4 linked regions of the Homo sapiens genome follow. The protein of the gene in region 1 interacts with the protein of each later gene in a pairwise test. Each region holds a gene or a part of one and is shown in the gene's direction. Other genes may lie near its edges.

Evidence for each region.
Region 2: the proteins of ZFYVE27 (region 1) and ATL1 interact in binary tests that used the Homo sapiens proteins (3 or more experiments, as listed by UniProt).
Region 3: the proteins of ZFYVE27 (region 1) and TMEM243 interact in binary tests that used the Homo sapiens proteins (3 or more experiments, as listed by UniProt).
Region 4: the proteins of ZFYVE27 (region 1) and REEP5 interact in binary tests that used the Homo sapiens proteins (3 or more experiments, as listed by UniProt).

What each region holds. Positions count from the first base shown.
Region 1 is NC_000010.11:97,733,043-97,740,148, forward strand, and holds the start of ZFYVE27 (protrudin), read left to right. Parts: upstream 1-4,085; 5' UTR 4,086-4,279; exon of another isoform or gene 4,280-4,283; intron 4,284-5,434; 5' UTR 5,435-5,435; coding exon 5,436-5,632; intron 5,633-7,106. UniProt on the Homo sapiens protein: Key regulator of RAB11-dependent vesicular trafficking during neurite extension through polarized membrane transport. Promotes axonal elongation and contributes to the establishment of neuronal cell polarity.
Region 2 is NC_000014.9:50,556,003-50,563,148, forward strand, and holds the start of ATL1 (atlastin-1), read left to right. Parts: upstream 1-4,142; 5' UTR 4,143-4,263; coding exon 4,264-4,297; intron 4,298-5,037; exon of another isoform or gene 5,038-5,124; intron 5,125-7,146.
Region 3 is NC_000007.14:87,195,733-87,202,759, reverse strand, and holds the end of TMEM243 (transmembrane protein 243), read left to right. Parts: intron 1-5; exon of another isoform or gene 6-580; intron 581-1,533; exon of another isoform or gene 1,534-3,702; coding exon 3,703-3,753; exon of another isoform or gene 3,754-4,714; coding exon 4,715-4,819; coding exon of another isoform or gene 4,820-4,945; exon of another isoform or gene 4,946-5,078; intron 5,079-6,001; coding exon 6,002-6,124; 3' UTR 6,125-6,600; downstream 6,601-7,027.
Region 4 is NC_000005.10:112,898,206-112,905,232, reverse strand, and holds part of REEP5 (receptor expression-enhancing protein 5), read left to right. Parts: intron 1-2,714; coding exon 2,715-2,853; intron 2,854-6,861; exon of another isoform or gene 6,862-7,027. UniProt on the Homo sapiens protein: Plays an essential role in heart function and development by regulating the organization and function of the sarcoplasmic reticulum in cardiomyocytes.

The sequences.
Region 1 (7,106 bases):
TTACAGGCGTGAGCCACCGCGCCCGGCCTGATTTTTATATTTTTAGTAGAGACGGGGTTTCACCTTGTTGGCCAGGCTGGTCTCAAACTCTTGACCTCAGGTGATCTGCCCGCCTCAGCCTCTCAAAGTGCTGGGATTACACGTGTGAGCCACTGTGCCTGACCGGTACTTAGGTTATTAAAGAAAAAAATTTATTTTTCTTAAGAAGGGTGGGGACTCCTTAGCTTAAATACTACATTGTTGAACACAAAACTTTCCCCATCCTCTCACTTAGATTAAGTCTGCCTCTTCTCTCTGCTCCTACGGTTACAGTAGAATCCCCTGCTTTATATCATGGCTCAGTCAAGTCAGCGTCTTCTGTTGAACTAAGAGTTCATAGAGGGTAGAATTTCTGTCCAGTTCATTCTTGCTGGTTTCACAGTCATTGTTTTAAGAAATGATTCATGACCAGCCTGGGCAACATAGCAACACCTCATTCTACAAAAAAAAAAAAAAAAAAAAAATTGGCCAGGCACGGTAGCTCACACCTGTAATCCCAGCACTTTGGGAGGCTGAGGCAGGCAGATCACGAGCTCAAGAGATCGAGACCATCCTGGCCAACATGGTGAAACCCCGTCTCTACTAAAAATACAAAAATTAGCTGGGCGTGGTGGTGTGCACCTGTAGTCCCAGCTACTCGGGAGGCTGAGGCAGGAGAATCGCTTGAATCCGGGAGGCGGAGCTTGCAGTGAGCCAAGATCGTGCCACTGCACTCCAGCCTGATGACAGAGTGAGACTCCGTTTCAAAAAAAAATAAAAATAAAAATTAAGTAGCTAGGTGTTAGTGGTGTGCACCTGTAGTCCCAGCTCCTCTGGAGGCTGAGGCAGGAGGATTGTTTGAGCCCAGGAATTAGAGTGAGCTATGATTGCACCATTGCACTGCAGCCTGGGCAGCAGCAGAAGACCCTATCTCAAAAATAAAATAAAATTACATTAAAAAAGGAAAGAAAGATAAGAAAAAGAAAAAAGAAATGGGCATTGTTCTGGGGCTTTTGTTGAAAGAGATGTGAATTCTGTGCTCCAAGAGGAAACTGACACGCATGCGCTCATTCAAGGAACATTTGTTGGTACCTCCTTTGTGCTAGATGCTGGACACAGAAATTATAGGCAGTTCCCTCAGGACTCTCACTGTCTAGAGAGAGGAGGAGGCACCAAGTGCTGGGGTGGGGCAGGCCCACGGAGCCAAGTCAGAAGGGCACGTAATCCAGACAGTGGCTGCTGATGGGGAAGGTGTCAGAGAAGTCTTTCTTCAGGGGTGAGATCTGAGCTGAATTTTGGAGGAAGAATAAGAGCTGGCCAACTAAAGAATATGGGGCGCAGTGGCTCACGTCTGTAATCCCAGCGCTTTGGGAGGTCGAGGCAGGTGGATCACCTGAGGTAAGGAGTTTGAGACCAGTCTAGCCAACATGGTGAAACCCCATCTCTACTAAATACAAAAAATTAGCCAGGCATGGTGGTGCATGCCTGTAATTCCAGCTACTTAGGAGGCTGAGGCGGAAGAATCGCTTGAACCTGGGAGGCAAAAGTTGCAGTGAGCCAAGATTTCTCCATTGCACTCCAGCCTGCGCAACAAGAGCAAAACTCTATCTCAAAAAAAAAAAAAAAAAAAAGGTGAGAGTAGTCTGTAGAAAGGTACAGTAATGGGAGAAGGTGTGACATATCCGAGAACTGCCAGAGTTGAATACACCAGGCTTTGGTTTTATCCTGGAGGTCACAGGGGGCCACTGAAACTATCCACCAAGAGAGTGGTCTGAGAAAGGTACAGAGGGGTGGACAGGGTGGGGGATGGGAGTGGGTGGGGAGTGGCGATGGCCTATCCTGGAATTCAGACCTGAGGCCAGGTTAGGAAACGAAGAAGAGGGGCCTTCAGAGGCTATCTGCATGACAGACCCAGGAGCTTTCGGGGAAAAGACCCATCCTAAGGGAGGAGAGGCAGAGTCCAGCAGATGGGCCTGGACCACCACAAAGCTCAGTCCATTTCTCTAAGGGGTGGTGAGTGGATTTCTGTATATGGCTTAGTGATATGTGTGGGAATTGGATCTTTCTACATTTTGGCCTTTCGTGGATTCTTGTCTGATTTTTGGGCTAGGGGTGGTGGTGGTAGGGCTTTGAGTAAAAATAAAAATCACAATGATTGCTAACGATTTTTGAACACTTATAACATGTCAGGAATTTACATACTTTAGCTCATTTAATTCTCATCACAGCCCCACACTGAGGGTACCACTATGGTTATCCCCATTTTACAGCTGGAAAAACCAACCAAGCAATTCATCTGAGGAGAAGCCCTCCTACCTTACTTATGTTGGGACTGGCGCATGCCGGGTAATTGACAAAGTCAACTAAAGCAGGGAGCTTTGAGAAAAATACCTACACAGGGTAAGCATTTACTTTTGGGACAATCGTCAATTTATACATAGTTATAAGAACTAACACAGGGTGATCCCACAGACTACCCCCCAATGGTAACATCTTGCAACCCTTCTTAACAGAATGCCTACTATGTGCCAGGTACTGCTTTAGGTGCTGGAGACATAGACACGGGAAACGAAACATTAGCTGACAGAAGCCACAAGAGTGAATGAGATCCTCACGGAGTGCCTTGAGTCAGAAGAAAGAAGGGTAGCAAAAGGAGCCCCAGCATTTGAGGGGTAGGAAGAAAAGCCCTAAGGAGACCTTGAAGGTCGGAAAGAGAGGAGAGGGTGGTGTCATGGAAGCTAAGGTGGACAATGGTGCCAAAAAGGAAAGAGATTCCAGTGCTTCTGAGGTCATCTGCAAGGAGGACTGGGAAGTGTCCATTGGATTTAGCAGCCAGGATGTCACAGGTGAGCAGGCAGGTAGCCCAGAAATATGGAGGGGAGCAGGACCACAGTGCAGTGAGGAGTGAATTGGGCGAGGAAGCAGCGGTAGAGAGCACTTCACAGTGAGTCTTCCAACTCATGTAGGAAAGAGGGGGTAAAGTTAGGCTAAAGGAGAAATTTTCCATGAATTTTGTCTCTAGAATGATGATTAAGAGTTAGCGAGAGTCAAGATTTCAGGCCTGTTAGAGCAAAGCCCTAAGGAAATAAGAGTTGGACCCTGGAGCACAGCTAAGTCCTGGCTGGAGGGATGGGCCTGTCTTTCTGAAAGGAGATAATGGAGGAAGAGATGCAGTTAAAGCTCTGTGGCTACTTGAAGAGGGAAGTGATTACTTCCAGCTGGGGCACTCAAGGAAGGGATACAGACATTTGAGTGCCAGGGGCATTTGAGGGTAACAGTGGAGGGGTTCAGTTGGCCAAAGTTAAAGGCAGCTGAAAGATGGCAGGAGACAAGACCAGGAAATGCAGACCAAGGTGGGTGGTGGTATGGTTGGGGCGTTGGGGTCAGATGACACATAAGCTTCAAATTCCAGCTCCCATTTGCTTCTTAGCTGTGACTCTAAAGAAGTTCCTTAACACGTCTGAGATTCCCCATCTGTAAAATGGCGACAACCCTAATAGGGTCGTTGGAGGAGAACTAGATAATGTCTAAAAAGAGCTCAGTCCGGTTCAGTGCTTGGCTCCTCTGTACCTGAGCGCTAAGTCACTAATATAAAGCCATCGGATGTGTGCTTTAAGGGAAATTAACTGGGCCACACGGTGTGAAGTGAACTGAGCTGGGAGAGGCCTGCACAGGACCTTGTACACACTAGCTACTCCGGAAACAACTGCATGCTCTGCTGGGCATCTCATACAGGATACGGTGTCTTTCCGGGGCTCACACACAGTCCCCAGTTCAGTTCCAAAGTTGGAAGGAAAGAGGATGAAGACGTAAATTCTTCATTTAAGCCTCTCGCCAACTGTTCCCTGCGGCAAGGCAGGGCAACGAGCTGCAGGGTCGCCAAGCACGTGCTTCCAAGGGTCCTCAAGGCTTTGTGAACGGCGGCCGGCCAAGGACAGAATTAACTCCAGCCTGGAGCGCGCGGGAAAGACGCGCAGGCGCACTGCTGGCAAGGGTGCTTGCCTGTGCTGGGGTGGGCGGAGCTAAACCCGGAGCGGGATGACGTCATGAGGACGCAGCCGCAGAGCGATTCGCGTCCCGGAAGCGGCGGTGGCGGCCGCGGCGTAGGCGGAGGAGATTTTCGGACCTGCGACTTCCGAACAACCCTGGCAGGAGGAGCGGCGTTCAGCCGGGGGAGGCCTGAAGAAACGCTCCGGGGCCCAGTGGCTCTACCCCTGCTCCTGCCCGACCCTGCCGCCTCCCTCACGGAGCCAGCGGCCGGGTAGGTGAGGTGCCGTCCCCCCGCGTCCCAGTGTCTCCGCAGGCTGTGTGTAGTTGGGTGCTTGGGCGCAGCGGGGGCCGCCACATGCTGGCCCCACGACCTCGGGCATGGCCTTCCCTGTCCAGCCTCACGGGCTCCATCAGGCCCCCCTGGCTGCAGAGGTGTTGGCCAAGGCCAGTGCGGGCGTCGATATACCTCGCCCCTTCCTGGGCTCATACCTGGCGCCGCTCTGTGCCCTTTCGCCTTGGCTCGGCCTGCGGGGATTTCGGGGTCCCGTTGGCCCCTTTGTCCCATCCCCTCACCCTCCCATCAGGTCGCGGCTGATTGCCTGGGACTGGTTTATGTTGCTCTTCGCCGAGGTTCCGCCCCCTCGTTTGCTGCTTAGAGTTCAGGATAGGACTTTGAACTGGGAAAGACCGTAAAGGCTCCTCGGTTTCCTCATCAGAAAGGGCAGACGGGAATGGGGCGTTCTGATGCCGACTGCCCTGGGGCAGAGATGGCCCAGGAAGTTGTTGGGAACCGAAGGGAGTGGGAAGAGTTAGAGGATCGGGCGAGAGTCCTGGAGCACGGTATTTCATTCACTCATTCAGCAGGCATTTGTTAAGCACCCACTGTGTACAGAAGCAGTCGTGAATGGAGGCCAGTTAAGAGCAGGGAGTTTTACTTTGACGTGGTCAGTGCTCTGCACTTGATCTTAGCCACAAGGCCAAGAAGCGATGTGATGTGATAAGTGCTCTGTTAGGGTGAGTACGTGATCCTTTGGGAGCATCGGAGAGGGTCTCCCAGTCCAGAGTTGGGGGTGTTGGCAGAGACTTCCCAGAGTAAGGGAGTGATGTTTAAGCTGATACCTGAAGGATGAGTAGGAATTAACCAGGTAAAGAGTGGGAGAAAAATGTTCCAGGACATCATTTCATTTCAGCCCATGGGCTGCCTCGCTGCAGCGATCATTTATGCTTGGTTTTTATGATTTTTAGTTTTGATGGATCTTTGGGGAAAAGAGCATTGGATGGAGAGTACAAAGAACAGGATTTTAGGTCTGAATAGTTCACTTTCCCTTGCTCACAGGTTTACTGTTGGCACCACCTGAATCTGTAGGTAGAATTGTGTTGAGGACTAGACGTGCAATGCAAATGTTGGGAATTATTATGGTTACAGGATGCAGACATCAGAACGTGAGGGGAGTGGGCCGGAGCTGAGCCCCAGCGTGATGCCCGAGGCTCCCCTGGAGTCTCCACCTTTTCCTACCAAGTCCCCAGCGTTTGACCTTTTCAACTTGGTTCTCTCCTACAAGAGGCTGGAGATCTACCTGGAACCCTTGAAGGATGCAGGTGATGGTGTTCGATACTTGCTCAGGTACAGACTTTGTGGAGTTGCTCTGGTCTGCTCTGCCTTCTGCCGTCCTGCTCTGTAGTAACTAACACTGACCATTTAGGCAGTGGCTGGGCTGTCCTTTCTGCCCTAGTGAGGAGCAGTTCTGGGAGGTCTGTTCGGCCTCTGGGTTTATCTAGGCCTACCCTGTGTCTCAGGCCCAGCCCAGGAGAGGCAGATACTGGGAATGATCCTGCCTTTCAGCAAGGTTCTTCTTTGTGACTGAATAAGCTCCTTCCTCTGGACTGCTGGACAACCTTGAACATCACGCCTTCTACAGCTTAGAGCAGGCTTAATTTTTTCCTTTGCCCCCAATATTAGCATAATTAATATTAAAAAATTAGGGTATAATTTTGAACAAAAATTAAAGAAATACAAAAACCTGTGAATAAGCAGATACCATTTTCACTACTTTTTTTTTTTTTGAGACAGAATCTTGCTGTATTGTCCAGGCTGGAATGCAGTCGTGTGAACATGGCTCACTGTAGCCTCAGCCTCTTCAGCTCAAGCGATCCTCCTACCTCAGCCACCATGCCTGGCTAATTAAAAAAAAAAAAAAATTGTAGAGAGGCTCTCACTGTGTTGCCCAGGCTGGTCTTGAACTGTTGGGCTCAAGTGATCCTCCTGCCTCAGCCTCCCAAAGTGCTGGGATTACAGGTGTGAGCCACTGTGCCCAGCCCATTTTTACTAATTTATTGAGATTATGGATCTTAACTTTTTCCCTCCTATCCTGCTTTGATTTTCATTCTCTATAATTTTCATTTTTTCTTTTGACTCATTTTATTATGTTAAAATTATTTTAAATTACTTATATGGCATTCTACTCCCTAAATATGTCAGTTTTTATCTCTAAATAAGGACATTTCTTTCAAGATCAAAGTAACACCATACCTAACAAAATTAATAACTCCTTGATATCATCCTATACTCAGTTCATATTCCATTTCCTCAGTTGTACCATCTCTTTTGGCTAAATCACATTTCAGTCCAGGAGTGTGCATTGTTTGTACTTATTATGTCTTTTAAGTCTTTTTTCAGTCTAAGACAATCTCTCTCGTGACATTGATTTGCTGAAGAGACTGAGCCTGAACTGACTTTCCTGGAGAATTTACTACCGAGATTTGTCTGGTTTCTTCCTTGTGGTGCAGACTAGAAGTTAGATTTAAAGGTTGGATTTGATTGAAGTTAGAAAAGTGTTTTTTTTTTTTTTTGCAAAGGTAAATGTTGTGCCCCTGGTGTTGCATTGCATCAGGAGTCACACAAAAACCTGATTGTCCTAAAGAGCAGAGGTTTTTAACTTGGAGCCTATGGGTGAGTTTTAGGGATCAGTGAATCCCCTGAAACTGCATGTAAAATTATGTGTCTGCACATGTGTGTATTTCTAGGGAAAAGCTTCTGGTTTTCATCAGATTCTCATAAAGACCCTCAGTCCTCTGAAATACATGAGAGAGACTGGTAG
Region 2 (7,146 bases), on another chromosome or scaffold:
GAGGATACAGGGGGAAGAGAATAGTTTGTGGAGTAACATCCCGGAAGAGTCAGGAAGAGAGAGGATTTAAAGTACTAAAGTTCAAATGGAGTAATACCTTTTCTTCTTTTATTCTGATTTAAAATGAACTTGACTTTTGACTTTTTAAAAACATTTGTATTTTAAAAACATAATTCACATACCATAAAATTCACCAACTTAGATTGTACAATTCAGTGGAGTTTTTTTGTTTTGTTTCATTTTTTGAGACAGGGTCTTGCTCTGTCATCCAGGCTGAAGTGCAGCGGCCTGAATCCTTGAACTCCTGGGCTCAAGGGATCCTCCCACCTCAGCCTCTTGAGTAGCTGGGACTGCAGGTGCACATCACTGCACCTGGCTAGTTTTTCTATTTTTTTTATAGAGATGGGGTCTTTGTATGTTGTACAGGCTGGTCTCGAACTCCTGGCCTCAAGTGATCCTCCCACCTCAGCTTCCCAAAGTGCTGGGATTACAGGCGTGAGCCACTGCACCCAGCCTAATCCAGTGGCTTTAGTATACCCAAGAGTTGTGCAAAGTTGATTTCATGATGAATTCTAAAACATTTTCATTGCCCCCAAAAGAAACCTCATACTCATTAGCAGTCACTCTCCAATTTCTCCCCAACCTCCCACTCCTTTCTTCCATCCCTAAGCAACAATTAATCTACTTTCTGCCTCTTTAGATTTGCCTATTCTATAAATTTCATATAAATGGAATCATATAATATGTGGTCTTTGTGGCTGGCTACTTTCATTTACTATAATGTTTTCAAGGTCCATCCATGTTGTACCATATATTGGTACTCAATAACTTTTTATGATCAAATAATGTTCTATTATATGGATATACTACATTTTGTTTATCCATTCACTAGTTATTTGGCACTGGGATTGTTTCCACCTTTTGGCTATTATGAATAATGCTGTTATGCATATTCCTGTACAAGTTTTTTTGTGGACATATATTGTAATTTCTTTAGGGTGTATATCTAGGAGTGCTAATGTATATGGCAATTCTATGTTTAACTTTTTGAGGAACTGCTAGACTTTTTCCCAAAGTATCTGCACCATTTTATATTTCCATCAGCAGTTTATGAGGGTGCCAATTTCTCCACATCTCACCAACACTTGTTATTATCTTTTTGATTATAGTCATCATAGTAAGCATTTTAAAACTTATTCTGGAGAATGTGAAACATTACTGTTCTAAGACTCAGAGTTATATAAAAGCATTACACTTAGAGAAATATCAGTCCCCTTAATCCCTACTACCCTCTTCCCATTCTTCCATTATTTCTACCCTATTCCCACCCATCTCCCGTAGGTGACCAATCTCATTGGTTTCTGGTTTAGTCTTGCTGTATTTATTTTTCACAGATGAATGGATACTTTTTTCATATCCTTTCCTTTTTCCAGGAATGGTATACTATTTTCACTTTTTCCTCCTCATTTAACATTGTATTCTGGAAATCACTCTGTATTAGCTTATAAAGATCTTCTGTATTCTTTTTCACACCTACATAACATTCTATTGCGTATATGTATTATAATGTATTCAACCACTCATCTATATGTGGGCATTCAGGTTGTTTCCAGCATTTTACAATAACAAAAAGTAATGTAATACATAACCATGTATGTTTATATTTTCATACTATTGAGGTATTTCTTCAGAGTAGATTAAACTTATGATTAAAAAGATGCATTCTAGCAATGTCCACTGAAAGGGTCTAGAAACAGTGATCTTCACCCAGCAATGAGCACAACTAGCACCCACGTCTTGGTTTCTAAACACCTTTTCTCGTTAAAAGGAGCCACAGCATCTTGGAGAAATGGCTATTCTAGTTCTAAGATAGGGAAAATACAAAGGAACCTGAAACATTTTCTTTTACCAGAATACAGGGAACTGCTCAAAGACAAAAAGGGACAATGTTAAAAGGACACACGAGCTGACCCTCAGCCAAATTAGGGGAATTTAGGCATTAAAAAGAATGGTGATGCATAGCACAATTTTTTTAAAAGCTTCCATTAATTTATAGAGGGACTCAACATAGAAAAGTGGGAGAGGGAATGCCAGCTACTTAATTTAAAAGACATGACATCAAGAGGCTGAGGTGGGCAGATCGCTTGAGCTCATGAGTTTGAGACCAGCCTGGGCAACATGGAGAAACCCCGTCTCTACATACAAAAACAGCCAGGCGTGCTGGCGACCGCCAGTAATCCCAGCTACTTGAGAGGCTGAGGCATGAGAATCGCTTGAACCTGGGAGGTGGAGGTTGTAGTGAGCTGAGATCACGCCACTGCACTCCGGCCTGGGCAACAGAGGGAGACTGTGTCTGGAAAACAAACAAACAACAGATAATGATTTTAAAGCCTCCATTTAAAAAATCACTAATATGAAATTGATTCAGGCAAGGATCAATGGATGCTAAAATCAGTGGATGAAAAGTTATTGGCCAATAGTACAAAAAGTCACATACAGAGAGCTATTTATTTAAGCATTTTTTTGTGATTCACACAGTCTCAAAGTATTCACCTGCAGATTACTTACTAATTATAAACACAACAGGTTTTTAAAAAATTAATTTCTTTTTCAATTGGGCATAGGTGTTGAATTATATAAATTTTTTCTTTTTTGTGTGTAATCTATTGTACTCTTAAAAATGGGATTCATATGAAAGGGATTTTCAGGCTGGAATGTAAGCTGAGAATGATAGTAAAGGAATATAAGAAGAAAAGCAGACCACACTTCTCTTTTGTTCTATGAACTTGGTTTATAGGTATAAGGATGAGATAATGTCTGTCTTCCTATGTTGTTTCATTAATGTCATTTCAACTCTGTTGAGCACAGACTTCTTTAAAACCATGTTGTAAACTTGGTTACAGTGTTCACGACTCTGCAGTCACTAGAACCAGTAACTGAAATATAATGCATAAGATTTGGCAGTGGTGGGGGAGTTTGTTTTCAGATATGTTGATGTTCAAATGTCAGTAGGAAAACAACGTGAGGATAACCTTAGGCAGTTATAAACACACCTCTGGTATAATGTCCTCTCTTCTAGAGGGCAGAAGACTACAAGTATAGATTTGGGAATCATCAGCATGGAGGTCCTGTCTGAAGCCATCATAGTAAATTACATTGAGAGAGTGTAGCGTGAGGAGTTGCTTACCATGAGGAATTAGCAGAGATCATGGATCTGGTAATTAAGAGGCTGGCAGTGATCTCCTAAGAACCGATCAGTACAGAGTGTGAGTAACAACCAAATGGCAGAAGGAAACTGTAAGGGACGGCATGATGGTATCTTGAGGTTGAGGTAGTATAAAGGGACAGTGTTTCCAGGTTACTGAAAACAACTAAGTTTGTAGCAGAGAGAAAGCAGTGAAAAGGGAAAGATTGAAAGTATTTTTATTTTTTTTCTTTTCCTTTCAAAATTGTCTGCAACCTTTATGGCTGCCAGGGCCCACCCATACCCAGACTATGTAGTATGATTTCAGCTCAAATAATTGCTATTGGACTATAGGTCTGGACCTTATCTTTGCAAATCTAGTGGGAAATTTTACCCAGTGGATATTGAGTTACAGATCGTAATGAATCTACAGCTTTCATTTATCTTGATCTTCTTGATATAAATTTTGCTATTCTAATTTTAAGACAAACTACTCAGTATACATATACAAAAATGCATGATACCCTCTTTACTAACATGACCTTGCTTTTAAAATGGAAAAAAAAATGGGTGCCTCGTAGATAAATGCACATTATTTTAGCTACTTTGGCTATATAAATGTTGCCAGCTTGTTTGTACTAATGTATAACCGTGCTTGAAACAGGTATTTGAACATCCAGAATCATGCAGTATATCGGTTTGTGTATTTCTGATAACGCTGTTAAATTCTTTGAGAGTGTGTTCGAGGGGGGTGCTGTTTATTTGTTTGTGTTTTCCGTTGAAAATGTTGCGGTACGTGGTCTATCACTGTCTTCACGGTCTGGGGGTGGACTGAGGTAGGGAGGGTGTGACGCTGGTATCTGTGTGAACTCGGGCTTGTGATGCTGAGCTTGGTTCATCTGCTTTCTCCTCCCTTTTCCTCCCCACTCCTTCCCACCAGCGCCACAGCAACATCCTCAGAGTCTGAGCGAACTGCGCCCAGCGCGGGCACGGAGCCTCCCACCGCCAGCAACCTGCGGCCCCGGAGAAGGCAGCGAGCGCAGTGACAGCGCCTCACCGCCACCAGCTCCTGGACCACCATGGCCAAGAACCGCAGGGACAGAAACAGTTGGGGTGAGTAGCAAATGAGAACTTCTGCAGCCTGCACGGGGTCTTCTGGCCCTCCACTTTCTGCTTCTGTGGAGACAGGGAGGGCCAAGGGCTGCTAGGTGCCTGCGTCCACGGCTGGGAGACGGGCCGTAGCCGAGCCGCTCCCTGTTTGGGCGGAGGAACCATGGCCGAGCGGTACCCGCGTCACCGAATCGCGCTGTCGGGGTGAGGGCTGCAGCTTCGCGCAGGCCGGGCCTCCAGCTCCTTCTTCCCCACCCCCCTCCCGCCTCCTCCCAGCATTTGGACAGCACCCACCAGGCGCCTCCGGGGACTTGTGGGTTCCGCCTTAGCGATCGGTTGGGAGGAAGGCTATGGGGGTGGGCAGGGGGCTGTTGTTACTCGGCCCCAGAGGGGCGAGGGGTCGGGGATCTAGAGCAGGCCAAGCCCCAACCCCCCTCCCCGGGAGCCGCCAACTCGCTGGCTCTGCAGGGCGCGGGCTCCCGGCGGCGGGCGGCGGGCGGCGCGCTGGAACAATGAGGCGGAGCGCGCCGGGTCCCGGACGGACGGTAGCAGACCGAGCAACTGGGAGAAGGGCCACCCTCTTGGGAATTCCTGAGCACTGCAGTACTCCTCTTAATTTGGGGGTTGGGTGGGGGAATTGGGGAAGAAGGAGAGCAAAGTTGTGGTTTCCAGCCTTCTGCCCCACCCCGACGTGGTACCCCATTCAGACCAGCCCCAAGGGTGGCTTTGTTCTTTGATTTTACCTTTTGGAGACATTGGGCTCATGATTCAGCACCAGGCCGAGGGGAGGGGAAAGGAGAGGCGAGACCCAGTATGTTCACACCGCGAGTGGGTGGGCGGTGCTCACGCAGGCGGAGAAGAACGGGCGCAGCGATGCGGAAGAAATCGCGGCCCCGCCCGCCTTGCTGCTCCAGACCTAGTTCTGGACGGTTAGTGTGGGCAGGCTGGGCGTCTTTTTGTCGTAGGTTCCCGATTTCTTGCAGTCACAGTGCTAAACTCACCAGCATCTTAGGAACGAAAGCCCTCTAAGGCATTTATTTTATTATCTGAACCAGAGAATGTCTCAGGCTACTGTGGCTTGGTGGGTAAATAAATATTTTGTTCATCAGCTTGTTATTTAGAAATTGTTATTTGGAAATAACAGTTGTTATTATTTGAAAAGTTCAGAGCTGCTTGATTCTGTTCCACATCTCAGTGAGAGCTCTTCTATAACTGTTTATTTGAGCGAGAGGCACAAATGTAAATTTTAATTGGTTATTTCAGTTTACTTTAATCAAAAGACCGTGTATCTCCTTGCCTCTGATTGTTCTAATGGTCACAGGATACGGTAGACAAGGTTTACATTTGGGAGATTATCCAAGGTTTGTGGTAGGCATGGAGAGTTGGAGCGGGGAGGTCTGTCATGACTTAGCTGAGTTTAAGAGAAAGTGGTTCCATTTTCTGAGATCATGAAACTTCAGTTTTAACAGACCTACCTGACTATTGCAATAAGTTTTATTTCCTTCTTCTGAAATTTAAGTAAGCATTTGCAGTGTATCCCCTTTCCACCCGTTCTCTTGGCCTCTAGAATAGGAATTTATTGAACACACACAATTAGGGTGCGTATATTCAAGTCACTTTTGGTCTCAGTCTCCATGAATTGTTGTCTCCACCCTGTTAACAGAAGCATGTGAAAATGTATTCTGAGGATTAAAATTTTTCTCCTTTATGAAGCTTTGGATCATTATTGCGCAGAATTTCCTTTGGCTATAAACTTTTTTTTTTTTGAGATGGAGTCTTGCTCTGTCGCCTAGGCTGGAGTGCAGTGGTGCCTTCTGGGCTCACTGCAAGCTCCACCTCCCGGGTTCACGCCATTCTCCTGCCTCAACCTCCCGAGCAGCTGGGACTACAGGCGCCTGCCACCGTGCCCGGCTAATTTTTTGTATTTTTAGTAGAGACAGAGTTTCACCATGTTAGCCAGGATGGTTTCGATCTCCTGACCTCGTGATCCGCCCGCCTCGGCCTCCCAAAGTGCTGGGATTACAGGAGCGAGCCACCATTCCCGGCCTTATAAACTTCTTATGTAGTGGGAGTTTTTCCCTCTTGGGAACATGGTTCTCACATCCGGTTTTCATAAAAATCACACAGGGACTTATTAGAAATGCAGACTCTCCCATCTTCCAGCCAGAGCTTTGGAATCAATAGATCTGAAAGAGGGCCTAGAAATCTGCCTTTTAATTAGCATTTTAGGTGATTGGGAAGCAGATGGTCTTTAGGTGTTACTTTGAGAAATACTACCTTAGATTATTTACATTTGATAGAAACATCTCAGATAGTTTACCCAGAAGTCATCAGGAAAGTTTCAACTCAAGTGATGGATTAGGAAAAGAAATACTAGAATCACTATAGTGTTTACTGGAAATTATTATAGAAAAGAAAGAGTGGAATTCTGGACTCTTATCTTGATGTTCTATGGAAATGCTTTACTACTTAGATTTTTCTTTGCTGTTAAGTACATATGACATAAATGACTTAGAAAATGTAGTAGATGGAGTAGGAGATAGAGGTTTTGGCACAGATATTAGCCCTGTCAGTCTTAATTCCATTTTATTACCAGTATCTAATAGAATGCCTAACACAGTAGGCATTTAGTAACAGCAATAGTAGCCAACATCGTTAAGCTAATGTCATATGAAATAGGTGCTGTAATACTCATTTTACATATTAAAAGGTAAAGCTAGTAGATGATTGACCCAGGATTCCTGCTCTGGCAGTTTGAATTCAGATTCCTTTATCTTCTATCTCTTTGTTGAATGGATAATACCTTCTGTATTATATTATAGAACTACAGTTTCAATGCATATTCATCTGCA
Region 3 (7,027 bases), on another chromosome or scaffold:
GAACCTTGGTTTCTAGACCGTGTTAAGGTCTGTATTTATTAGTTTTAGGACTGTTAGACCTTTTGAACTGTTCATTACACTTGTCTTTTGTGAACAGCATTGGATAGGAGATTTTTTGCCATTACCTAGCCGTGTGACCTTTGGCAAGTCAGTCTTCTGGAACCTAGTTACCCATTGGTAAATAGAGATAACACTCCTTACTTGCTTTCCACCATTCCAGATACAAACCAGTTGCATATATCTCCATCTTTTTCTCCTTCCTCATTCTAAAGGAAGACAAAGACATGAATCCGTCAGGCCCAGGCTCTTCACTGTGCATTGCATTCCAGCTCTTTTCCTCTCAGCTCTCATGAAACTTGGTCAACAATCTCCATTTGTCCCATTGATTTTTTGTAACAGCAATGCTTTTGTTCTCCCATGGGTCTTTGTGGAATTCCTTTCATGAACCATCTTTCCTTTCCTTTTCATCTGCTAGTCTTCCTCAGGGTTTTGACTTCTCTGGTAGTCTCTCCTTGACTGTCCAAGATAGCTCACTTTCTGTCTTCTTAGTGCCCTCCTGAACTCTGGATAGTGTAAACTTCTGGAAGGTAGAGATGTTTTTATTCACTTTTGTATTTGCATCTGAATTATAGTAGATAATGTTTAAATGCATAAATATATGACTTACAAGATGATATAGGTGAAATCTCAACTATATATATACATGTATGTATGCACACAACGTCTGTCTTTATGTTCATGTATATATGAATTCAGACTATCTCTAAACCTGTTGCAGAATATTTTGTCTCTGGGAAGGAAATCCTAAATCTGTATCCTGTCCTCTCAGCAGGCAAGGATCCAGGCTAATTGCCATCCTTTGTCCTGTCAAGCTTCCTTGTGGAGTGAAAATAAGCCACAGTACAAGGTTTAAAATTCTGGTAGGAGAGACAAGTTATGGTAGGTAGAACTAGAGTGAAAATAAAACTGGGGAGGAGACAGAGCTAGTTTCTGTGAGAAATAATTGAGTTAATAGAGACTAGCTGTAGAAGTAGAAATAATGAGTTTCAATTTACTCCATAAACAGCAAAGTTTAAATGTATTACTCACTTTTCTCCATGTACTCTAGCTCCAATTTGGAGCATATTATTCCCCAAACTGTCCTTTGAAGTGTTAATTAACTAGCTATTTAATTATTCTCTATTATCCTCTTTGGAGATTGGGAGCTAGAAGAGCTGCTAAAACCCTGAAAAATAATCTCTAGGCCCAGGGAAGGAGCTGTACCCTGTGATTTGAACTTAATATTTAAAAATGGCTTATTTTAGACTAAACTTTAGAGCACAGCCTCTCCATTTTAAATGTGCACATAAATTACCAGATCCTGTTAAAACGCAGATTCTGATTCAGTTGGTCTCAGTGAGGCCTAAGATTCTGCATTTCTTGCAGTTCTCTCAGGTGAGGCCGATGTGCTGGTTCATAGACTACACTTTGAGTAGCAAGTTTAAAACAGAGAGCATTAGAAGTAGGAGGGCTTCTGAAGTTAACTCTGCATACCTGAATTCATGGTTGATAGAAGGCCTTGGCTTGGAGAAAGAAAATATTCTGAGAAACACTTCTGCCATGTCCGAAATAGTTCATCCCATCTTGGGAATCCCAGAGGGGACCACTACATTATAACAATAACTGATATTCATGAAAATCTGTTGGAATTCTGTTCAGTGACTATCTAAAAGGTAGGCAGGAAAGTATTCATTAAAGTTTAGATATATTTTCATCAGGATGATTAAAATCAGTTATATGGAGAAATCCAAAAATGTGGAACAAAGTCACCCATGAGGAAATCATTCTTGAAAGGTAAGCACAGTGTAGTACTTTGCTAATAGGCTTTTTGAGGTGTCATCTGCCACTTGACATCTTTGTCTAGACCAGCACTAGCACTCTAGGTTGTTCTTTGGGTGAGAAGCATAAATAGGGAAAGGAGGCCTGGCACTGAATCTTGTCTTTATCACTTAATGGTATTGAGATCTTGGGAAAGTTCTCAGTTTCCCTGAGCCTGTTTTGCTACCTGTGAAACAGTCATATTACCATTTCATCCTAGAATTTTTAAAGAGAGGATTGGTGAATGTGCTTGGCATAGTTAATATCCTTTTACCATTATTTTTCTCCTACTTTGATCCTGGTAGGCAACTTGCTGTGTGTCATTTGGCAATTAGTGATATATTGGCTTGACTTCTATTGGTGGGAGCTGTTATGAGGTATGCAGTGCTTCATTTTGGAAATCCCTGGCGCTCAGAGAGCAGCAGATATTCTTGCTTCTCAAAAATAGTGGGGCTCCCATGGATTTTGTCTCTCTACACATTTTATGTTGTCCCATGTGGGAAGAAGTTAAAGTGAGTGGTGACTTGTCCCTGGGTCCCTTTCCTAACAAAGTGGTCCTAAGTTCAGGCTCCTGTGTGCTGTGTAGGCTTCTCTAGCTGAGGTCGTGGTAAGATCTCTTCTGAGTCCTCTGGAGTTAGGGTGTGGCTGGAGTCCAGTATCTTTTGTTCTGTAACCTTTCAGTTGCAGTGGCCTTGGTCTGGAGAGTTGTGATTTGTCCTTGGTTAGATCACACACATCCAATACTTGGCTTTCTTACTCTTTCCCTCCCAATTTTGCCTGACTCTTAACTTCTGTGGGTTCTTATCCTTAAAAGGCGACTACTTGGAAATGAGAATTCGGTTGCTGCTCTGTGATTGTTCCTGTGTCCTTCCCATCTCTGAGGTTTTGTTTATTGGCGGCATGTTCCATATCCTGCCATTCTCTGCTCAGACCATTATCAAAACAACATTTAAGACGACTGATTCGTTAAAGACTCAGCTTTGACTTCTCAGAAATAAGACTGCATGTCACTATCATACTTTACCTTTTTAGTAGTACCTGAAACTACTTCTAACCAGTGACCTGGATTTAGGAATCTCTGGTTTCAAAATTGCTTCTAACTTGTTATGACTCTTAGAAAATAATTTAACCACACTGGGCCTAAATTTAGTTTAACCTGTAAAATTAGGATTGGATCAGTTTTTCAAACATTCTTTGTTGGTTGGGGTGGGATGGGAATGACAAGAAAGCTCAGTAGGTAGGTTCTTCATTCAACCAATATTTTGTTTATATACTAAAGCCCTTCACTATTAAATAACTTGGAAAAACTACTGGACTGGATGGTCTCTTAAGATTGCAAGTGCCAAGCCTTGGCACTCTAGGACCCATCCCTTTTAACAGTAGCATCTATTTTTAGACTAGACAAGGATACCTAAGCTGTATTACAAATATAGTTCCAGACACATCATGGTACTCTACATCTAGTCCGGTTCCTGATACCTTTAACCAATGCTCTGGCCTGGCCATTCCTGCAGTGCCTGTCCTTCTCCTTTGGCTTATGCTATCCTCAGCAGCACATGCATTATTTGTAAGCCTCCCTTACCCATTTGATACTACCCAATCAAGACTCTAGTATAAATGTTCTGTCCCTTCAAGAAACCTTCCCCAGTTGGCCATTTTCCCAAAGTACATTTTCCACTCTTATGGTTCAGTACACTTTGCTTTGTCTGGTAGTTTTATGTGTAAAGCTCAGAGGACTGGATCTTGGGTTTCTTTATAGTAAACCATCCAAATGCCTTGCATTGTACTATACTGAAGGTAACATGGATCCAAGTCATATGGCTTAAAAATTCTTTTCTCTTTCAGGATCGAATCATCAATTTAGTTGTTGGCAGCTTAACATCCTTATTGATTCTAGTAAGTATCCTCATTTTGTGCCTCACCCAGGCTCTTAGCCAGTTTTGAAAACTTTATCAATTATGGTTAACTTTCCAAAAAAAGCTAAATAAGTGCTTTTAATTTTATTACCACAAAATTGCAGTTGCTAATTGGAGTAGCTAATTTAATTCTGCCCCACCCCCAGGTTGAATATGTGAAATGGTACAAGTCAGACAACTTCGTTTTAAGATAATTGAGTTTACCATGTTTTGCCTAGTAAATTTGTAAAAATGTCAGTGGCTAGTAGCCACTTCCTTCTGTCATCTACCATAATTCCCCATTTCTATTTTGTTCCTGAAGAACATATCCATTACCCTTTGGTCAAGTTTTAAAAGATTTGGTCACAGTGTATAGTAGTTGTACTGTATACATCCTGTATACAGTATACATCTGGGAGCTATTACAATAAAATTTTTAAAAGCTGTATTTTCCATAGTTTGACATTTTTCTGGCACATTAAATTTAAGAGAATTTTTTTCCATGGCTTCTTAATGAAAAGATTGCATATAATGCTGCATCTGTTAGAAACAGAACTATACAACATTAGAAGTCTTTCAGTGTGTTTCATAATGTTATAGCAAAACCAGCTTTGATTATATTCATTTTGCTAGAAATATTTAAAATAACAAAATGGCTAGAACTTTTACCAGCAGAATCATTAATCCTGGGAGTGAGGTTTAGTTAATGAAGTTATTTTGGCATCAGCTAGTATTACTGATGTTTTCTCTCCTTTCATAAGTAAGGGAAAGTTTAGAAAAGAAGTACTAAAATAACTCGAACATATTTATAATTACTGTATTAACATTCTAGAAAGCAAACTTGGTGGCAGATGTAATTTTATAACATGAAGCATTTTGTAGTACTGTTGCCTAGACTCCAGTTGGTAATTACCAAGTCTTGGAATTACTGTTAAGGCCTTACATAATTTCTCTTCATACAGGTAACGCTGATAAGTGCTTTTGTTTTCCCTCAACTACCTCCAAAACCGTTGAATATATTCTTTGCTGTCTGCATCTCTTTGAGTAGTATTACTGCCTGCATACTTGTAAGTACTGTTGAGAATTTAAACAGTGTTCTTGAGGGTTTAAGTTGCAATGCACAGGACAAAAATTTTCAGCCTTGGGTCTATACAAAAGGGTATCTCTTAATTATATCCTCATCCTCCCCCTAAAAGTATGTTAGAATTCTCAATAAAATCTGAGTCTTCTCCTTTTCTCCTAAATCCCAAAGTTGTAACCCCAAAGAGAAATTCCACTCCCTTGATAGCTTAAAAAAAAAAAAAAAAAAAAAAAAAAAATTAGTGGAAAGACGTAGGTGGCCAAAGATTTTAATTTACTTAATTCATCTTCACTCAAGGACTACGTAAGGGCCAACAGTCTTTGGGAAATGCCAGTTACTGCTAAGGGAAGAGATAGAGCACTCTGGATTTAATTCTAATTATTACAAAATTAGTTTAATCTACATGTTTGTTTCCCAAAATGGAGGTATTAACACCAAAACCTCCTGGGAAATCTAAAGCTGCAGTTGTTGTAAAAATGTTTGATTTACTGCAAATGTTTCTTTTATGGTGAAGAAACAAAGATGGTGGTGGCTCCTCAGTGTTCATTCATTAGTTGGCTACATTGTTTCATGTTCCTTTAGAGGCAGAATCAAAAGAAAAAACAATAGTAATTTGCTTATCTGAGTTAAAATTAATTAAACCAGGAGACACCTCCAAGTGTTCTCATTCACTGATCCTGCTATATACTCCCATGACCCGAAGAAGAACTAGCCCATCCCACTTTGGGAGCTTTCCTGTTCCCCTAGCTTGAAGCCTAAAGTGACTAACAGACAATGAACTAGTTTAATCCAAATATATTATGGAAGCCCTATTTTACGGTCTGAACCAACTGTATGAATCATGAGTCTAAATGTTGTCTTCCTTTCCTGTTAAGTAGTATGCCCAGGTATATGTTCTTGGATAGCTTGCCAGATGACTGGTGGAGTATACAGGTGTGAATATAGAGGAAAGTAAACTGAGAAAGTAGGAATAAGTATGATCTTGGATGTGGAAACTCAGAGTAAGAATTAAATTCTGGCTGTACTGATCTCAGGAATGTAGAGACCTCAGAATATGGAGAATGTCTGTCTCATTTAGGGGAATAAACAAATACTAATGAAATTTGAAATTGGTAGAGAAAATGTTATATTTCAAATTTTAATTTATAAACTTTAATTCTTCTTTTAGATCTACTGGTATCGACAAGGAGACTTAGAACCGAAATTTAGAAAGCTAATTTACTATATCATATTTTCTATCATCATGTTGTGTATATGTGCAAACCTGTACTTCCATGATGTGGGAAGGTGAGGCTGCCAAGGAGAAGTACTTACCAGGACTCTTCAAAATGATACATTAGGACAGTGAGTAATTTTTGGATAAGGTATGCTGAAGAATCTCCTGCAGAAGTCTGATACATGATTTTCATGTTAATTGTAAATGTTAATTCCCTCTTGCAAGGGAGACATATCCTAGATCACTTTGCTTTTTCTTTAAGGAGCTGATGTTGCACCTAAACATTCCAACCCTTAAAGCTAAAACAGCACAAAAAAATTTCACTTTTGAAATGAAATTTTTATAATTGTATGGCAAAAGGCTATGTAAAAACAAATCTTGCATCTTAAGACAAATATTCTTTTATTTCTGTTAAACTGAATATACAATTGTTCCCTAGGCAACCAACTTTTGCTTATAACTACAATTTAATTTCACGTTGACAAAACACAGTGAAAAGACAACTTTGTGAAGATCTAATTACAATAATAAATAAAATAATTTATACAAGGGTTTTTTTTTCTTGACTTTTCTATAGGGGTCATATTCATTAAAAAGCCCAAAAGGCTACCTTTGCCTTAACCCTTCTGTAGTACAGGAATGATTCTTAGATTTGTTTCCTTTTGTTATAGAAGCAAATATTGTTTTTTTAAAATAGCCTGAGATGAGAGGTTATATTGTACCCCACCAGCTAACACACTAAGTGGATGACAAACTATTCTCTCGGTAATTTATATAGCAAAACATCTAATAAATGGTCATGGTATCAAGGATAGGTAACATTACTTCCTTCCTCATTTAGTTTTACTTCAAAGTGCTAACTTTGTAAACTAATGACAGTGGTTTCTGAGGGGGTGAAAACTGCTTAGATTCTGGTGGGTTTTGTTACTATGCTTATCCATATTCCCTTTAAAAGTAACAAAAAACCTGTAGTGAATT
Region 4 (7,027 bases), on another chromosome or scaffold:
TTCTCTCACCATGACTACATGGGGCACTTCACTTTTTTGAACCTCACGTTCCTGAGTGAGCTAGACCATCTCTTCCCTTTTTTCTTGTTTTGGGTAGTTTGTGATTGTTATGACACATAAAGACATTTTTTAAATTGAACATTGTGCTATTTTAAATTAAAACAATTAAATGCTTCAATAATATGAGAAGATCTATTAAAAAATCTCTTTAGCTTAATAGACTCATTGGCCTTTTCCTGGCTTCTTTCATATGCCTTGGTTTTCTGCAAAGTTGTGATCAGTGTATGTATTCAATTTGGAGTTCTTTTATTTCTACTTTTCAATGTTACTATATAGTGTTCTAGTATATTAACATGGGGACTTTAGAATTCATATTGTAGATATGAATTAAAAAAGAATTTTTTTTTCCTAGAAGAGCTGAACTGTTAGGCTTCCTGTTTTTCAATCTGTGGAACTTGACTAACATTTAAAAAATAATGAAATAGAATGGAATTTAAAATATCAGAATGGTTTCAGGAAATATCTATTTAAGTTTATATTTTTATGTGAAGATGTCTGTTTACTGGATCATGATGTAAAATGTATGCTTACCGAGGGTTGTGGCCAAAAGAATTTAAAAGCCACTGGATTAACAATGACAGTCCCATCACATTTTGAGGTTTTTACGTCATATTCTAGAAAAGACTGTTTAATTCCCAGGTGTGTCCTGAGAGTTGCTTCTTTTGGAAGTACATAGTTGTGAGCTATTGCGTTCACAAAACTAAGACCTTGAGTGAAATGTAATTACGTATCTCCTCTGCCCAGAATGAATGTACAGGAAACAAATTTTTATTATACTAATAATTAAATAAATCCAATTAAATATGGATAAGCCATACTATACCAAATGAAACACAGCGGGAGAAGAAATCTTACACATAAAGGATATACTGTGTTCTTTGGTTAACATGCTTGTCTACACTTTTCCTTTGGCCTTCTATTACATTCGCCAGCTTCTATCTGAAGGAAGCTAAAAAAATACAGACTTTGTGCATACATTACAAGCCATTTTTTAATAATCAGCTCTCTTAAATTCATTTTATATGATTCTTGTACTTTGAAATATTTGGGGCTGGGTGTGGGAGCCACCAGACTGCACTTTGGGAGGCCAAGGCAGGAGGATTGCTTGAGGCCAGGAGTTCGAGACCAGCCTGGGCAACACAGTGAGACCTTGTCTCTACTAAAAATTTAGCAAGTAGCTAGGTGTGGTGGTGTGTACCTGTAGTACCAGCTACTTGGGAGGCTGAAGTGAAGGGAATTACATAAGCCCAGAAGTTTGAGGTTGCAGTGAGCTATTATTGTGCAACTGCACTCCAGCCTGTGCAGAGACCCTGTCTCAAAAAAATAAAAATTTTGCCTAGTCTTGAAGTTCAAAGCAACATTCACCTTATTACTTGTTCCTCTCTCTGTCTTCCTCATTAGTAATCATCTCATTGAGCTACAATTTTTCCCCTTTTGGTTATTTTCTAAAACTCACACACATAGCTGCTTCTAATTAACTGTACAAGGGCTTTCTTAGTGAGTGACTGAGCATGATTTAGCAGCCTGACTGTCTCTTTGGGGAGCTGATGTTATGGAGTAGCCAATGTATTTGCTTTTTGAAAATTTTTTATTTCAATAGGTTTTTGGGTAACAGGTGGCGTTTGGTTACATGGATAAGTTTTTAGTGGCAATTTCTGAGATTTCGGTGCACCCATCAACTGAGCAGGGTACACTGTACCCAATGTGTAGTCTTTTATCCCTCACTACCCCCAGCCCTTTCCCCAAAGTCCCCATAGTCCATTGTATCTTATGCCTTTGCATCCTCATAGCTTAGCTCCCTGTCAATGTATTTTCAGTAGTTAACCTGTTTCATAGGCTAAACAAGATTCAGAGTTCTTTTATTTTACTGTTTCAGTCCAGCTCAGTTACGATAAATATCTAGATCTGTTAGGATAAGAAATTGTGGAGCTTCAGGTTTAGAATAATGAGATTCCTAGGACTGAAGGAAATTTCTGTGATTTAGAAAATTATTTTAAATGTATTTCCATCCATTTGCAGAATGAATTTTGTTTAAGCAATAGTTAGGGTTGGGAAAGTCCTGTTATTAACTGAGGAGAGGAGGAAAGTCCATAGCCTGTGGATCAGTTAAAGACATTCTGAACTAAATAGACACCATGAGGTTTGTTTTCACCCGTTTACTATAAAATATGCTGTGGATTTTGGGCAGTACCTAACCTATGTTCCAAATGTTGCTTTATGGGAAATTCTTATTCACCCATGATATATCTCAATTATTAAAAGTACATAAGAACCTGGTTATCACGAGAGAATTCTTCCTGATATATCCCTCGTGGCAGGACCCAGCTTGGGAGTGGAAATTGCTCTAGCTCCCAGTCACTAGTGGTATATTCTAGGACTTGTGGGGAGGCTTTGGCAGGGTGGAGATCCAGGGCAGTAACAGCTGGTGCTGGTTTCTCTGGTGACCAGGAGACTAGAAACAAGTGGTTATAATGGCTTGTCCCGATATCCACATTGCTTCCAGTCTTTAAGCTGTACTCTTGCATCTAGTGACACAGTGCCTACATGTGCCTAAGTTTCTCAGTGGTATCAGAGGACAGGTTATGAAAGTGTATTTGAAAATCTTTCATTGATATCTTACCAAATGATATACTTTCTTTTGTACTGCCTTTCAGAATTAAAGCTATAGAGAGTCCCAACAAAGAAGATGATACCCAGTGGCTGACCTACTGGGTAGTGTATGGTGTGTTCAGCATTGCTGAATTCTTCTCTGATATCTTCCTGTCATGGTTCCCCTTCTACTACATGCTGAAGGTATGTTGGTCTTGCTACCACTAAAACTCCATCTCAGTACCTGTATAGAAGAAGTAGGAATAAATGCTTGAATGTTGTGCATCTGTGGCTCTGTCTCAGATTATAAACAAGAAGACAGGCCTGGGCAACAGAGCGAGACTCTGTCTCAAAAAAAACAAAAACAAAAAAATGCTCAAGCAAGCCACTTGCCTCAGCCTCCCGAGTAGCTGGGACCATAGGCGCACACCACTGCACCTGGCTACTCTTTTAAACAATTTTATCTAAAGAAATTTAGATATAGGAAATTAAATATAGGAAGCTCCATCACTCCAACCACCATCATAAATGGTAGTATCTTGAGTTTTAGTTCTGGTTAATTATGGATATATAATTCTTTTTGTCTTTGGTCTTAGCCTTTTTTTTTTTTTTTCTTTTTTTGAGATGGAGTCTTGCTCCGTCGCCCAGGCTAGAGTGCAGTGGCATGATCTTGGCTCACTGCAACCTCCACCCCCCAGGTTCAAGCAATTCTCCTGCCTCAGCCTCCTGAGTAGCAGGGATTACAGGCGCCCACCACCATGCTTGGCTAATTTTTGTATTTTTAGTAGAGACAGGGTTGGTTTTTTTAAAAATCTATTTATTTGTACTTCTTCTGGGAGATTTCTCAATCTGACCTCCTTTTTTTTTTTTCTGAGATGGACTCTTGGTCTGTTGCCCAGGCTAGAGTGCCATGGTACAATCTCCGCTCACTGCAACCTCCGCATCCTGGGTTCAAGTGATTGTCCTGCCTCAGCCTCCCGAGTAGCTGGGATTACAGGCATGTGCCACCACGCCTGGTCAATTTTTGTATTTTTTTTGGTAGAGAAAGAGTTTCACCATGTTGGCCAGGGTGCTCTCGAACTCCTGACCTTAAGCAATCCACCCACCTCGGCCTCCCAAAGTGCTGGGATTACAGGCGTGAGCCACCGTGCCCGGACTCAATCTGACCATCTAATTTTCAACTGTACTCCATGATTACATTATAACCATTCTGTTATTCCTGCTATATACCGTGTTCTTCATTTCAACTATTATATTGTTCACACCTAATGTTTTTGCTTGGCTCTCTTCTTCTTGTCCTTGTTTCATATTGCTAATATTTTCTCATTTCTTTTAGTATGGTTACCGCTCCCCAGTTTAAAATTCTTGGTCAGCAGTTCTAATATTGTTGCTCCTGACCAAAACTTGTAGTTGATTGTGTTGTTTTTCTTTTGAAATGTACTCTTGGCCAGGCGTGGTGGCTCATGCCTGCAATTCTAGCACTTTGGGAGGCCGAGGCGGGCAGATGGCCTGAGCTCAGGAGTTCGAGACCAGCCTGGGCAACACGGTGAAACCCTGTCTCTACTAAAATACAAACGAAATTAGCTGGGTGTGGCAGAGTGCACCTGTAGTCCCAGCTACTCAGGAGGTGAGGCAGGAGAACTGCTTGAATCTGGGATGCAGAGGTTGCAGTGAACCGAGATCACACTACTGCACTCCAGCCTAGGCAACAGAGCCAGACTCCATCTCTAAAAAAAAAAAAAGAAATATATTCTTAAAATATCTTTTTATTTTAGCCTACAAACTGCTTTTCATCCATGAGTATCAGCTATCCCATCAGGCACTGGAATGGAGGGGGCCCCAGTCCATGCTAGTACTAGTAAGTTCTGGGTAGGGGGTGGATGAGTCCTAGGAGTGGGGGGCCCCAGGCACACAGGAACCATAGTTAACCACTCTTCACCTACAGAAGAGCTCCTCAGGTCAAAGCTTCACTGTACAGTCCCCTTCTACCCCAGCAAAGCAGCATCAAAAGGAAGTGATCCTGGGTTATAGTTCACAGCTCTAGGGGTTGGAGCAGGAGGGGTAGGGAAGTAACTGCCTTTAGTTAGTGTCCACCTGTTTTCCTGAGTGATTTGCAAAGACAGGACTTTTATGCCAAAACCTCTGTTTTAGAAAAAAGTAGAGGACAATATTTTTTAACTTTGAGGTATAGAAGCAAGACAAAATACAAAAGTTTCAAAGAAAAAGATTTGATAAATTCAACTAAAAATTTCTAAAAATTAAATTTCTATATGACAGTGGGCAGCATAAACAAAGTTAAAATAATGACAGACTAGGAAGATAGATTTACAACATTTACACCAAATAAGGAATATCCAGAATACATAACAATTTCCATAAGTAAAAAGAAAAAGAAAATGGGAAAAGGTTCTAAGTTAAGTATTTCACGGAAGAGAAAAAATATGAATGGCTAGTAAACAGCTCACCAGTGATGTGGGAAGTGTGAGTTAAAATAGTGAAATCCCATATTTTGTTCATTAAACTGGCAGATATTTTAAAGATTGAAAATATCTGGTATTGGTGAATGTATAGGGAAATGGACATGTAATGGTACAGGCTGAACATCTGAAATTGGAAATCCTAAATGCTTTAAAACCCCAAACTTTTTGAGTGCCCACATAATGATCAAAGGAAATGCTCATTGGAGCATTTAGATTTTAGAGTTTCTGATTTGGTATGCTCAGTTGGTATAATGTACATATTCCAAAATCTGAATAAATGTGAAACCCGAAACACTTTTAGTCCCAAGCATTTCACATAAGGGATACTTAACAGCCTAGTGGTATAAACTTGAATAACCTTTTTAAGGGACCTTTTAACCATTTCTTGTTGAATTGAAAAATGATACTCTTAACAATTCTAAGGAAATAGTCACTGTGCATTAAAGAGCTGCACAAAGATATTCATGGCAGCATTTTTTGTTGTCAACTGTATATAATATGAACTGCATAATGTAAACATTATAAACAGAAATGTCCATCAGCAGGTAAATGGTTCATTCAATTAATAGTATATCCATACAGTTAAATGGAATGAAATAGATCCATATGTACAGACCCAGAAATTTTTGCATAATTTAGTAATTATGAAAAGTTATACAGGACAGTTGTGCTAGCTTTTGCCTGTAATCCCAGCATACTCGGAGGCCAAGGCAGAAGGACTGCTTGAGGCCAGGAGTTTGACACCATCCTGGGCAACATGGTGAGACCCTGTCTCCACACACACAAATTTAAAAATTAACCAGGCTCCCAGATCACAGCATGTTGACCAAAAAAAAAAAAACCGAAAACCAAAAAACAAATGCCAGGCATGGTGGTGCATGCCTGTGGTCCCATCTGCTCAGGAGGCTGAGGTGGGAGGATGGTTTGAGCCCAGGAGTTCAAGGCTACAATAAGCAATGATCACCCAACTGCACTCTAGCCTGGGTGACAGAGTGAGACCCTGTCTCGAAAAAGAAAAAAAGTAATAGAACATTAAATACAGTATCACACCATTTATGGTTAAAAAAGAAAAAAGACAAGACACTATATGAAGTGAGTGTCTTTTAAAGTTTAAAAAATTAAATGAAAACATGCTCAGTATAGATTCTTTTATATTTTTGAATGACTTCACCACAGAATGCCTTGTAAGGCAATTAAGAATTTTCCTTTCAAAACTGATGGAAGAAAATAAAAATTGGTCTGTGGAAAGAGTTGATTTCAAAGATTGGATTTTTTTGTTTTTATTATTCAAAGTCATTTAACATTTATAAAAATATTCTTACAATCTTTAATTTGGACATGACATAATTTAAACTTCAGATAATTTTAAAGCCCTTAATAAGATCCATCTAATCGTAGGGACCTCACAGTAGTCTTTAGTGGAAAGAAATTGGCTTTTGCTTTGGGCCCACTTGCTTGTGGCAGTGAACACTATCTTGTCAGCAGAACTACTTGCAGTAGTTCTGACCTCAGACTTCCAAATGTGAGCAAGCTTGACTTCTAGCCTACTCCTAATCACCTCTGCTAATGGAGTTCACAGAGAGGTAGAGAGAAGATCCAAAATAAATGGTAGTCACTGAATCATTTATATTTGGTTTTGAAGTTCATTTAAAATATTGCTTTGTAGCAGACTTTCTTCCCTAATGGTAAAATGAATGTGCATCCATTAGTAGTCTCCAGCTGCATGGCATCATAGTGTTCATGAAAGTGAATTTATTGCATACATTCCAAATAGATAACATACTTGAAAGGATTAAACATTCATGATGCTGTCAATCAAAATACTTTCTTCCTACATTAGTGGCATACTCTGAATGACCTAGTGAACAGACTGAGAAGAGGCCTCTGAATTGCAGAGT